2 linked regions of the Homo sapiens genome follow. The protein of the gene in region 1 interacts with the protein of each later gene in a pairwise test. Each region holds a gene or a part of one and is shown in the gene's direction. Other genes may lie near its edges.

Region 1 (4,609 bases):
CCCGGGAGGTGGAGGTTGCGGCGAGCCAAGATTGTGCCATTGCACTCCAGCCTGGGCAGCAAGAGCGAAACTCTGTCTAAAAATAAATAAATAAATAAGAAGAATAAAATAAAATACGAGTTCCCAGGGCCGTTGCCCTGGCCGACCGATTCATCACACCTAGGGCTGCGGCCCTGACATATGCATCTTAAACACCCGACCATGTGCGGCTTCCATGAGGATTGGCCATCTCTGGGTTGGCGGAAGAGCAGGGGACCCATGGTTGTTGGAGACGGGCACCGTTTGAGCCACCAAACAGGCTCAGGGTGGCATGATGGCTCGGCAAGGTCTCAGAGCCAGGCAGGTGTGGAGCGAGAGGTGGAAGCCAGGCCTGCTAGCTTCCAGGGGCCCCTGCCACACTGGGAAGAGAGGGGGAAGCTGGCACAGCCTGGAAGGGACACCCACACCCGGGGAAGGAGTTTCGTGGGCATCCCGGCGTCTCCCACGCCTCTCCTAGCTCAGCGTCCCCCGGGGAAGCTCAGGCCCCAGATTTTGTTAGGGAGAAGTAAGCAAAGGGTGTTGGCTGTGCGCCCGCCTGTGGGACAGAACTGCAAAGTCAGCCACAAGCAAATGGGCCTTTTCAGGAGGCAGGAGGCACGGCAGCCACCTCCTCTGAGAAGCCGCCATGTCCTCCTCCCTCCCCGGGGCGTGGGGCTGTCCCCTCAAGCCTGGGTGGCCTTTGACGTGTGACCCTCCTCTCTGCACAGGCTCGGTCTGGGGTTCTTGCAGCTGGCACCAGCCCTCCCGGCCCCGGCCGCCCACCCGCCGCGGGGAAGATGCCGGAACAGAGTAACGATTACCGCGTGGTGGTGTTCGGGGCGGGCGGCGTGGGCAAGAGCTCGCTGGTGCTGCGCTTCGTGAAGGGCACGTTCCGCGACACCTACATCCCCACCATCGAGGACACCTACCGGCAGGTGATCAGCTGCGACAAGAGCGTGTGCACGCTGCAGATCACAGACACCACCGGCAGCCACCAGTTCCCGGCCATGCAGCGCCTGTCCATCTCCAAGGGCCACGCCTTCATCCTGGTGTTCTCCGTCACCAGCAAGCAGTCGCTGGAGGAGCTGGGGCCCATCTACAAGCTCATCGTGCAGATCAAGGGCAGCGTGGAGGACATCCCCGTGATGCTCGTGGGCAACAAGTGCGATGAGACGCAGCGGGAGGTGGACACGCGCGAGGCGCAGGCGGTGGCCCAGGAGTGGAAGTGCGCTTTCATGGAGACCTCGGCCAAGATGAACTACAACGTCAAGGAGCTCTTCCAGGAGCTGCTGACGCTGGAGACGCGCCGGAACATGAGCCTCAACATCGACGGCAAGCGCTCCGGGAAGCAGAAGAGGACAGACCGCGTCAAGGGCAAATGCACCCTCATGTGAGCCCGGAACGCCCGCCTGCCCGCCGCCCACCCCCACTGACCCCCGCTGCCTCCCCCAACACCGACACCCTCCTCGGCCTCCTCCTCTTCTCTCATCCTTCCTCCGACACCTCGGCTGGGGAAACCGAGGCCACCGCCCCCCCCTCCGCTGCCCCTGCCCACCCCGAGGCAGGGCTGGGGCTTTTCTTCCTCCCCTGCTCTCTCTCCACCCTCCTGTTCTGTCTGTACCCTCCAAAACCAAGAGCCGGAGGTGGCCCCCTTGTCCTGCAGATGGGAAAACAGGATGGGGAGCTGGCAAGAGGAGCTGCTTGTTCCCACCAGGACCAGAGGAGGCTGCGTTTCCCCGTTTCCATCTCTTTCCCTGGGGTGTCCCCAGCCAGACCTGCGCGTCCTGTCCCTCACATTTGATCACTGTGACCTTCTGGGGGAGGGGGGAGTTGAAAATGCACATCGGCCTCAGATATTTTTTTCTTTTTTCTCCTATTTGGTGTTAACATACACCCAAGCCCACCCGGCCCGTCGTGACCTCTGATCTGTGCCCACTCCTCCGGTTCCAGACGCACCTCTCTCCTCTGTCTTCACAGTGGGGTGTGGGGCCCGTGGGATGGGCCTCAGGCCACCAGGCAATAACCACAGGGCCTGCAGCAGTGCCCCTGCCAGCCCCGAATCCCACCCCCGGGACCAGCCACATCCACAGCACAACTGCCCCGCTGGAGAGGCACCATGGGCGTGGAGGGGCTTCCCGGACACCGCCCACCCGGGACCCGCCTCTTCCACCAAGACAGAGACGTTAGCAACGCATGGCGGGTGGGGACCTGGGGTGCTCAGGAGGGGGTACCCGGGGCCCCGGCCAGAGATACATCAATTACACCCCCGTGGGGGGACAGCCGATGGGAGCCAGCACCAGCAGGATCCGAGGGCGCCCCGGACAGAGGTCTGCCCCACCCACTTCCTCCCCACCACCTGTGCCCCAGAGAGCAGGGCCTGCCCGGGAAGGTGGCGTCCTGGAGTCGAGTGTACCTGCAGCCATGAGGTTCTGGGTGTTTTTTGAGAGAGTCTGAGTGACACCACACTCGTGTGACCCCACAGGGTTGTGTCCAACATACACGGAAGTGGCTATGGAATGGTGTATTTGTGCAACCTGGGGTGCGCGGATGGGTGACTTGTATCTAAGTGCATCTGCGTGTATACCTGTGTGTGTCTGTCTGGGATGATATGTTTTTGTGGCAGTCTGTGTGTGTAATAGTGGTGTAGGGTATACAGAGAGGTGGGTAGTTGTAGATACCTGTGTGTGGTTGTCAGCAAGACTGGATATGTGTGAGGTGTCTGTGTGAATCTTTGTGCCTGTATGAGCATGACTATATTTTGGGGAGTGGGTGATATGGTTTATCTGAGAGCATTTATCTGTAAATATGTTTGTCCTGATTGAGGGACACGATCTGTGTTCCACTCTATAGCAACATGACTCTAGCAATGTGACTTTCGGTTCCAAATCTGTATCAGTCAGCTACTGCTGTGTAACAAATGACCACAAATGTAGCAACCAGAAACAACACATGCTTATTATCTCATAGATTCTGTGGGTCAAGAGCCTGGGTGCAGGTTGGCTGGGTCCTCTACTTGGGATCTCAGGAGGCTGCAATCAAAGCATTCGCCAGGCAGAGGTCTCATCTGAAGGCCTGATCGGGGAAGGATTTGCTTCTTAGAAGCTCATGTGGTTGTTGCAGCATTCAGTTCCTTGCTGTTGCAAGACTGAAGGCCTCAGTTCCTCGCTGGCTGTTGGCTGGAAGCTGCCCTTTGTTCTGTACCATGTGGGTCTCTCCACAGCGGGGCTCGGAGCATGGCAGCTAAGTTAGTGAGGGAAGGTGAGATGGAGGTTTTGGTCTTATTGGGTGTGAGGAAGCAACGTGTGTGTGTGCGCACGCCCTTTTGTGCAGTGAGAGAGAGAGAGAGATTGCACACATGTGTCTCTGTAGTCATGTGGCCAGGTGGGACTATGTAGGTAACAGATTGCTCGTGTCTGATTTGGTACAAGCATGTTTGTTTTCCTCTGTGTTCGTGTGAGTGTTTACTCAACAAATGTTTATTGGACACACTCAGAGAGAGGGAGTGTGCACACGTGCGTGTGTGTTGCTATCCAGCACGTGGACCGGGCTCCCAGAAGAGCTGGCATTGTGTCTGAGCAGAGCTGGGTCCCCCCAAAACTTGGGCTGGCCCAGGGCCCACCAGCAGCTGATGTTGCCTCCTCTCCTGTCCTGGCAGTAGCTTCTGGGTTCTGAAGGTGCCGGAGAGAGTGAGGCTGGGCAGGGGTCTGCGGCCCTTTCTCAGGGACACACCCTGATAGCACAATCTCCTTGGGGCCCTGCCCACCTCCAGGCCTCTCCCACCTCAGGCCCTGCCCGACCCTGGGGAGAGAGGGCATCTGCAATAGGAGGGGACCCGAGCCTGTCCTGGCTGCTGGCCCATCCTGCCTGGGCATCCCTGGTGCTGGGGACTGTGCCAGGCCATGCTTGCTGTGACTCCGCCCCTGCCCCCTCTCCCCCCGCATGTGGGTGCCCCCACTCCCCCATCGTGGGGTCTGTGTAGCCTTCGCTCTAGACATAGTCTTCCTGCAATAAAAAAGTGGATCCTGCATTCCCCACCAGCATGGCGCCCTGTCTCTGTGGTGGGCGTGGGGTGTCAGCTCACCGCCTGTAAAGGATCAAGAAGGGTGGGGAGGTGCAGGATGGGGTGAAGGGTGAAGGAGGTGATGGGTGTAGGAAGTGAGGGATGGGATGAAGGGTGGAGGAGGTGATGGGTGTAGGAAGTGAGGGATGGGATGAAGGGTGGAGGAGGTGATGGGTGTAGGAAGTGAGGGATGGGATGAAGGGTGGAGGAGGTGGTGGGTGGAGGAAGTGAGGGATGGGGTGAAGGGTTGAGAAGGTGGTGGGTGTAGGAAGTGAGGGATGGGATGAAGGGTGGAGGAGGTGACGGGTGTAGGAAGTGAGGGATGGGGTGAAGGGTGGAGGAGGTGGTGGGTGTAGGAAGTGAGGGATGGGATGAAGGGTGGAGGAAGTGGTGGGTGTAGGAAGTGAGGGATGGTGTGAAGGGTGGAGGAGGTGATGGGTGTAGGAAGTGAGGGATGGGGTGAAGGGTGGAGGAGGTGGTGGGTGGAGGAAGTGAGGGATGGGATGAAGGGTGGAGGAGGTGATGGGTGTA
Region 2 (5,278 bases), on another chromosome or scaffold:
ACAGAAAATGGGTATAGGATTCTGGGTTCACAGTTCTTTTCTTTCTTTACTTGAAAACTATTGTGCCACTTTTTTCTAGCCTCCCTGGTTTCTGATGAGAAATCCATTGTGTTCTTATGTGTTTTATTCCCCTGTAGGTAAGGTTTCATTTTTGTCTCTCAAGACTTTCTTTGCGTTTAGTATTCAGAAGTTTAACTATGATGTGTCTTGGCATGGATTTCTTTGGGTTTATCCTGTTTGAGTTTGCTCAGCTTCTTGAATTGATAGGTTTATGTCTTTTGCTAAATTTGAGAAGTTTTGACTGTTACTTCTTCAGGTACTTTTCAGCCCCATTCTATCCACTCTTTCCAGACCTTTGTTGACACTAATGTGAGATCTTTAATTATAGTCTTGTAGGTCCCTGAGGTTTTGTTCTTTTTTACCCACAGATTATTTTCTTTCTGTTGTACAGACTGAGTAATTTCTATTGTTTTATCTTGGAAGTTCTCTGATTATTTCCCTTGTCCCCTCTATTCTGATGTTGAACCTGTTTTTATTTCAGTTATATATTTTAGTTAAAAATTTCCATTTGCTTCTTCTTTATATCTTTTATTTCCTTGCAGAGACTTTGAGTCTCTTCCATTTGTTTAAGCATTTTTAGAATTGTGGTAAAACATACAAAACATAAAATTTACTGTTTTAACCATTTTTAAGTATACAGTTTAATGGCATTAAGGACATTCACATTGCTGTGCAATCATCACCAGCATCCATCTCCAGAACCACCTTCATTTTCCCAAACTGAAACTCTGTACTCATTAACCAATAACTCCCCATTTACCCCTCCCCACAGCCTCTGGCAATCACCATTTATTTTGTGTCTCCATCATCTGACAACTCTAGTCACCACATATATGTGGAATAAGAAACTCCTGTCCTTTTTTGTCTAGCTTATTTTACTTAGGTCTTTAAGGCTTATCTGCATTGTAGGCGTGTCAGAATTTCATTTCCTTTTAAAGCTGAATAATTTTCCATCATATGTATATATCACATTTTGTTTATCCATTCATCAATCCATGGACATTTGGGCCATTTCCACCTTTTGGCTTTTGTGAATAATGCTGCTGTGAACATTGGTATGCAAATATCTCTGAGCCTCTGCTTTTAATTATTTTTGATATATACTCAGAAGTGGAATTACTAGATCATATGGTCATTCAATGTTTAATTTTTTTATTAAATACTGTTTTTACTAATTAAATACTGTCATACTCTTTTTCACAGTGGCTGGACCATTGTACATTTCTTCCAGCAGTACACATGGATTATCATTTCTCAACATCCTCACCAATATTTGCTGTGTTTTAGTAATGGCCAAACTAATGAGTGTGAGGTGGCATCTTACTGTGGTTTTTATTTGCGTTTCCCTAATGATTACTGATGGGAATCTTTTTATGTGTTTGTGGGCCATTTGTATATCTTCTTTGGAGAAATGTCTATTCAAGTCTTTGCCCATTTTTAGAATTGAAGGGTGTTGTTGTTGTTGTTGTTGAATTGTAAGAGTTTTGTTTTTTTTGAGACGGAGTTTCGCACTTGTTGCCCAGGCTGCAGTGCAATGGTGCAATCTCGGCTCACCGTAACTTCCACCTCCCAGGTTCAAGCGATTCTCCTGCCTCAGCCTCCTGAGTAGCTGGGATTATAGGCATGCACCACCTGTAGAGATGGGGTTTCTCCATGTTGGTCAGGCTGGTCTCAAACTCCCGACCTCAGGTGATCCACCCACCTTGGCCTCCCAAAGTGCTGGGATAACAGGCGTGAGCCACCACGCCTGGCCCAAGTTGTAGGATTTTGTACCAGTACCCCACTATCTTGATTATTGTAGCTTTGTAGTAAGTTTTGATATCAGTTAGTATGAGAACTCCAGCTTTGTTCATTTTCAAGATTGTTTTGGAGATTTAGGGTCCCTTGAGATTCCATATGAATTTTAGGATGGATTTTTCTATTACTACTAAAAACACTGGTTCATTGGTTTATGTCAGTCATATCAAAATAAACACATCAGTTTCAGTAGTACTGATTACATTAAGCTTATTAGACTTCACTCATCCCATATAACAGTTCTCAGAGTCCTAACAGGAATCCTATATTTTCTTGTAATTGAAGTTAAATAGAGAAAGCAAGTCAGAAAGAAGAGGACAAAAAATCTAAAAGGGAGTCCAGTGTCACAGAAATTTGTTGAAGGATATGAAGTATAAACTTTTCTTTTGCCACAAAATTAATTTGAAACATATCCTAAGCTTTTTGGTAAGTCATTGGACTTCATATTTGAACTGGTGATAGGGTTGTATGTAACCAAACCTTGAGATCATACAGTGAGCTGTGTTTAATTATAACTCATTATTGTAATTAATCTTACATTGTAGAACTTGACGTCTCGTTTTTCTTTTTAAAAATTGGGCAAGTAGCTGTGCAGTGGCTCATGACTGTCATCCCAGCTACTTGGGAGACTGAGCAGGATGAATCCCTTGAGGCTAGGAGTTTGAGGCTGCAGTAAGCTGTGACCATGCCACTGTACTCAAACCTGGGCAGCAGAGCAAGTCCCCATCTTTAAAATTTTTTCCTTTAATTTAAAAAAAAGTAAAGTTTTTATGATTTTTTTAAATTATAATACATTTCTAAGAAAGACATTGCTAGGCTACTGCTATGTCTTTTTCCAGAATTGTTTCTAGTTTTATAAGCTTAGTCTTGTCAAAATAAACATTTTGGTATATGTTTTGGATAGACTTAGAACAACCTAACAGAATCATATCTGTTATTTTTTTGTCTTCCAGAATGTCTACACAAGGAAGTACAGGATTTGGCTTTTCTAGATGTCGTATCCAAACTTCGCAGTCATGAGAACAAAAGTGTTGCCCAGCAGGCCTCTCTCACAGAGCAGAGACTTACTGTGGAAAGCTGAGAACTGCCCGATACACGGCATCATCCCATCTCTAATTTCCCCTCTGTCCTCCATCCAGCGGCTTCTTCCGCTTCATTCTCTACCATACCACTTGTGCATGCATGTGATGTTCTAATACCAATTGAAGAACCGCTGTAGGTACCTCCCTAATAAGATTTCTAAACCTATAGTTAGTGTGATCATGACTTTGTCAAAGGCAAGTCTCCACCCATAACCGTTCTCTTGTATTCCTGTTGCTTGAGCTACATTAAGTAGAATGTGCATGTTGTAGTCCTATGATGATGTAAACTTGGTACTACATAATGACTTGCTCCACACATGCAGTAAACTACATAATGATGTACTGGTAAACTAGAAACAAAGAATGCAGCAGGATCTGTCTAGCTTATTAAAGATGAAACTGAATTGGAAAAATAGCTCCATTTTTTGGTGCTTGGGAAGCACAGTGACCAAAAAAGTTGTATGGCTGCTTATTCATTAGTCTTTCCTACTGATGTCAAATCCATGGTACCTAGAGTTAAATAAAATTCCAATGCTCTTACTCTTTAACTTCTGGTTTCTCCTTTTTCCTTTTTAGACTATTGAAACTGCCACAAACTTGGCAAGACTTTCTGAGGTTTCTGATTCCATATTTAATTGACTATTATCAATAGCCTGATATTGAAAAACATTTGTAGTTTTCAGTGTGAAACTAAGGGGTTGAAGAATCACTATTACAATCCCTATTACAGAGCATTTCGGGTTTTGCTTGTATTTTAGATTCTGATACATACGCTGTTTCACTCAGGAACTACTTCTACCAGTTAATCAGCATTATCCAGCACTTGTCTTTAAAATTCATTTGGCGCTTGTTTGTTTTCAACTGAGGAAATTGAGTATAGTTCATTGAAGAATGGAATTTTTTTTTTTTTTTTTTTTTTTGCTGTTTTTCATCATTCAGCTAGAAAGTGAGAAGTTTTATCTTCCATAGTCCTTTTAAATCTTATGTTAGAACTAGCAGGACGTAGGTGGAAAGATGAAGAAATAAGCTTGTCTAGACTAAAGAAAGGAAAGCAGGTTATAAAAGCCATAGTAGCCAGTCCAGTTCATTCTGCAGATGGCCCCATACCAATCGCTGTTAGAGTTTGCCACCTCCACTTTCCCACTGAGAACTGCAGCAATTTTAAAGGATATGAGAAAGCCAAGACTCAAGAGATGAGAAGACCCCCTTGGCGAAATATAGTGTACTCTTCACTGCCACTGCCACCACCAAATGGGTTTTTAGAGCTTTGAAACACAATCTTTGTAAATTAATCAAAACCTCCCTGTGACCCACCTGCCTTCTCCCCATACCCAAATTTGACCACTACTGGCCTAAAAGGCAAGATGGGCTTCGATATAGAAGGACTGCAAGACAGTAGAAAGGGCTGCCACGGAGGTGACAGTAGCTCCTTCCTCTCCAACATGTGATGCTACACATCTCTGTGGATAATCTAAGTTGGACTTTTGACTCTAAAACAGCTATAATCCAAGAAAGTTAAATTCTAATGGAGGTAAAGAATCTTGACTGATTGTTCCCTTTGATGTCCAAATAAGGGAACTATTGTGAGTACGTATGCTACACTTACTATAAGAATGATACTGTTTGTTGTCTTTCTCCTGGGCTGGATAGTGGACTATATTTTATTACAGGCTTTGAAAGACATCTGTAATGTTGCATATCTGTTCATATTAATAACTTAATAAATAGTATATGAAGCTATAATGGCATCATTTGGTTTGTTTGTATATTTTGTCTCTATTTCCAGCTCCTAGAATAAGGCTTGCTATTGATGTTCAACAAATATTTGTTGACTGAATGAATGAATCCTGCATCCATGAAGTTTCCAGACTGCCTGAACTAATTCCAGAAAGATAGACTGACTGACTGATAGAAAGTTTGAGATTTGATAGTTTGTCTGACTTTAGGGAAAAAATTTTAACAAAAGCATCCTAAAATCGTAAATGTGAGAGAAGTTACCATCTAGGCCAGCTGCCAGCCATCAATTTGCTAATATGCTAGGAACTCCCATCTCCAGCAAAATAAAGTGCAATTCAAAGTACTCATCATTGTACGGAAAGACCAGAAGGCTGTGCCCTTATCACAGGGGCTACCAAATTAGATGGTACACTGATGTGCCATTGCAGTGGATGGGAGAGTCTACAGACTGTACTCTCGCTTATCTCCTGCTACTAAATCTTAGTCCTAGAGGCCACTATTTATTAAGTTAGTTTGCTACCCACTAAGAGTACATTCTAAGGGAGACAACAGGAGGGAAGAACAGCACAACAAAGCTTTAACTGTCAATCTTGAGCCAGTAC

Evidence for each region.
Region 2: the proteins of DIRAS1 (region 1) and RAP1GDS1 interact in binary tests that used the Homo sapiens proteins (3 or more experiments, as listed by UniProt).

The regions. Positions count from the first base shown.
Region 1 is NC_000019.10:2,714,013-2,718,621, reverse strand, and holds the end of DIRAS1 (GTP-binding protein Di-Ras1), read left to right. Parts: exon of another isoform or gene 1-310; coding exon of another isoform or gene 311-343; intron 344-746; coding exon of another isoform or gene 747-815; coding exon 816-1,412; 3' UTR 1,413-4,055; downstream 4,056-4,609. UniProt on the Homo sapiens protein: Displays low GTPase activity and exists predominantly in the GTP-bound form.
Region 2 is NC_000004.12:98,439,180-98,444,457, forward strand, and holds the end of RAP1GDS1 (rap1 GTPase-GDP dissociation stimulator 1), read left to right. Parts: intron 1-2,810; coding exon 2,811-2,938; 3' UTR 2,939-4,679; downstream 4,680-5,278. UniProt on the Homo sapiens protein: Acts as a GEF (guanine nucleotide exchange factor) for the Rho family of small GTP-binding proteins (G proteins) that stimulates the dissociation of GDP to enable subsequent binding of GTP.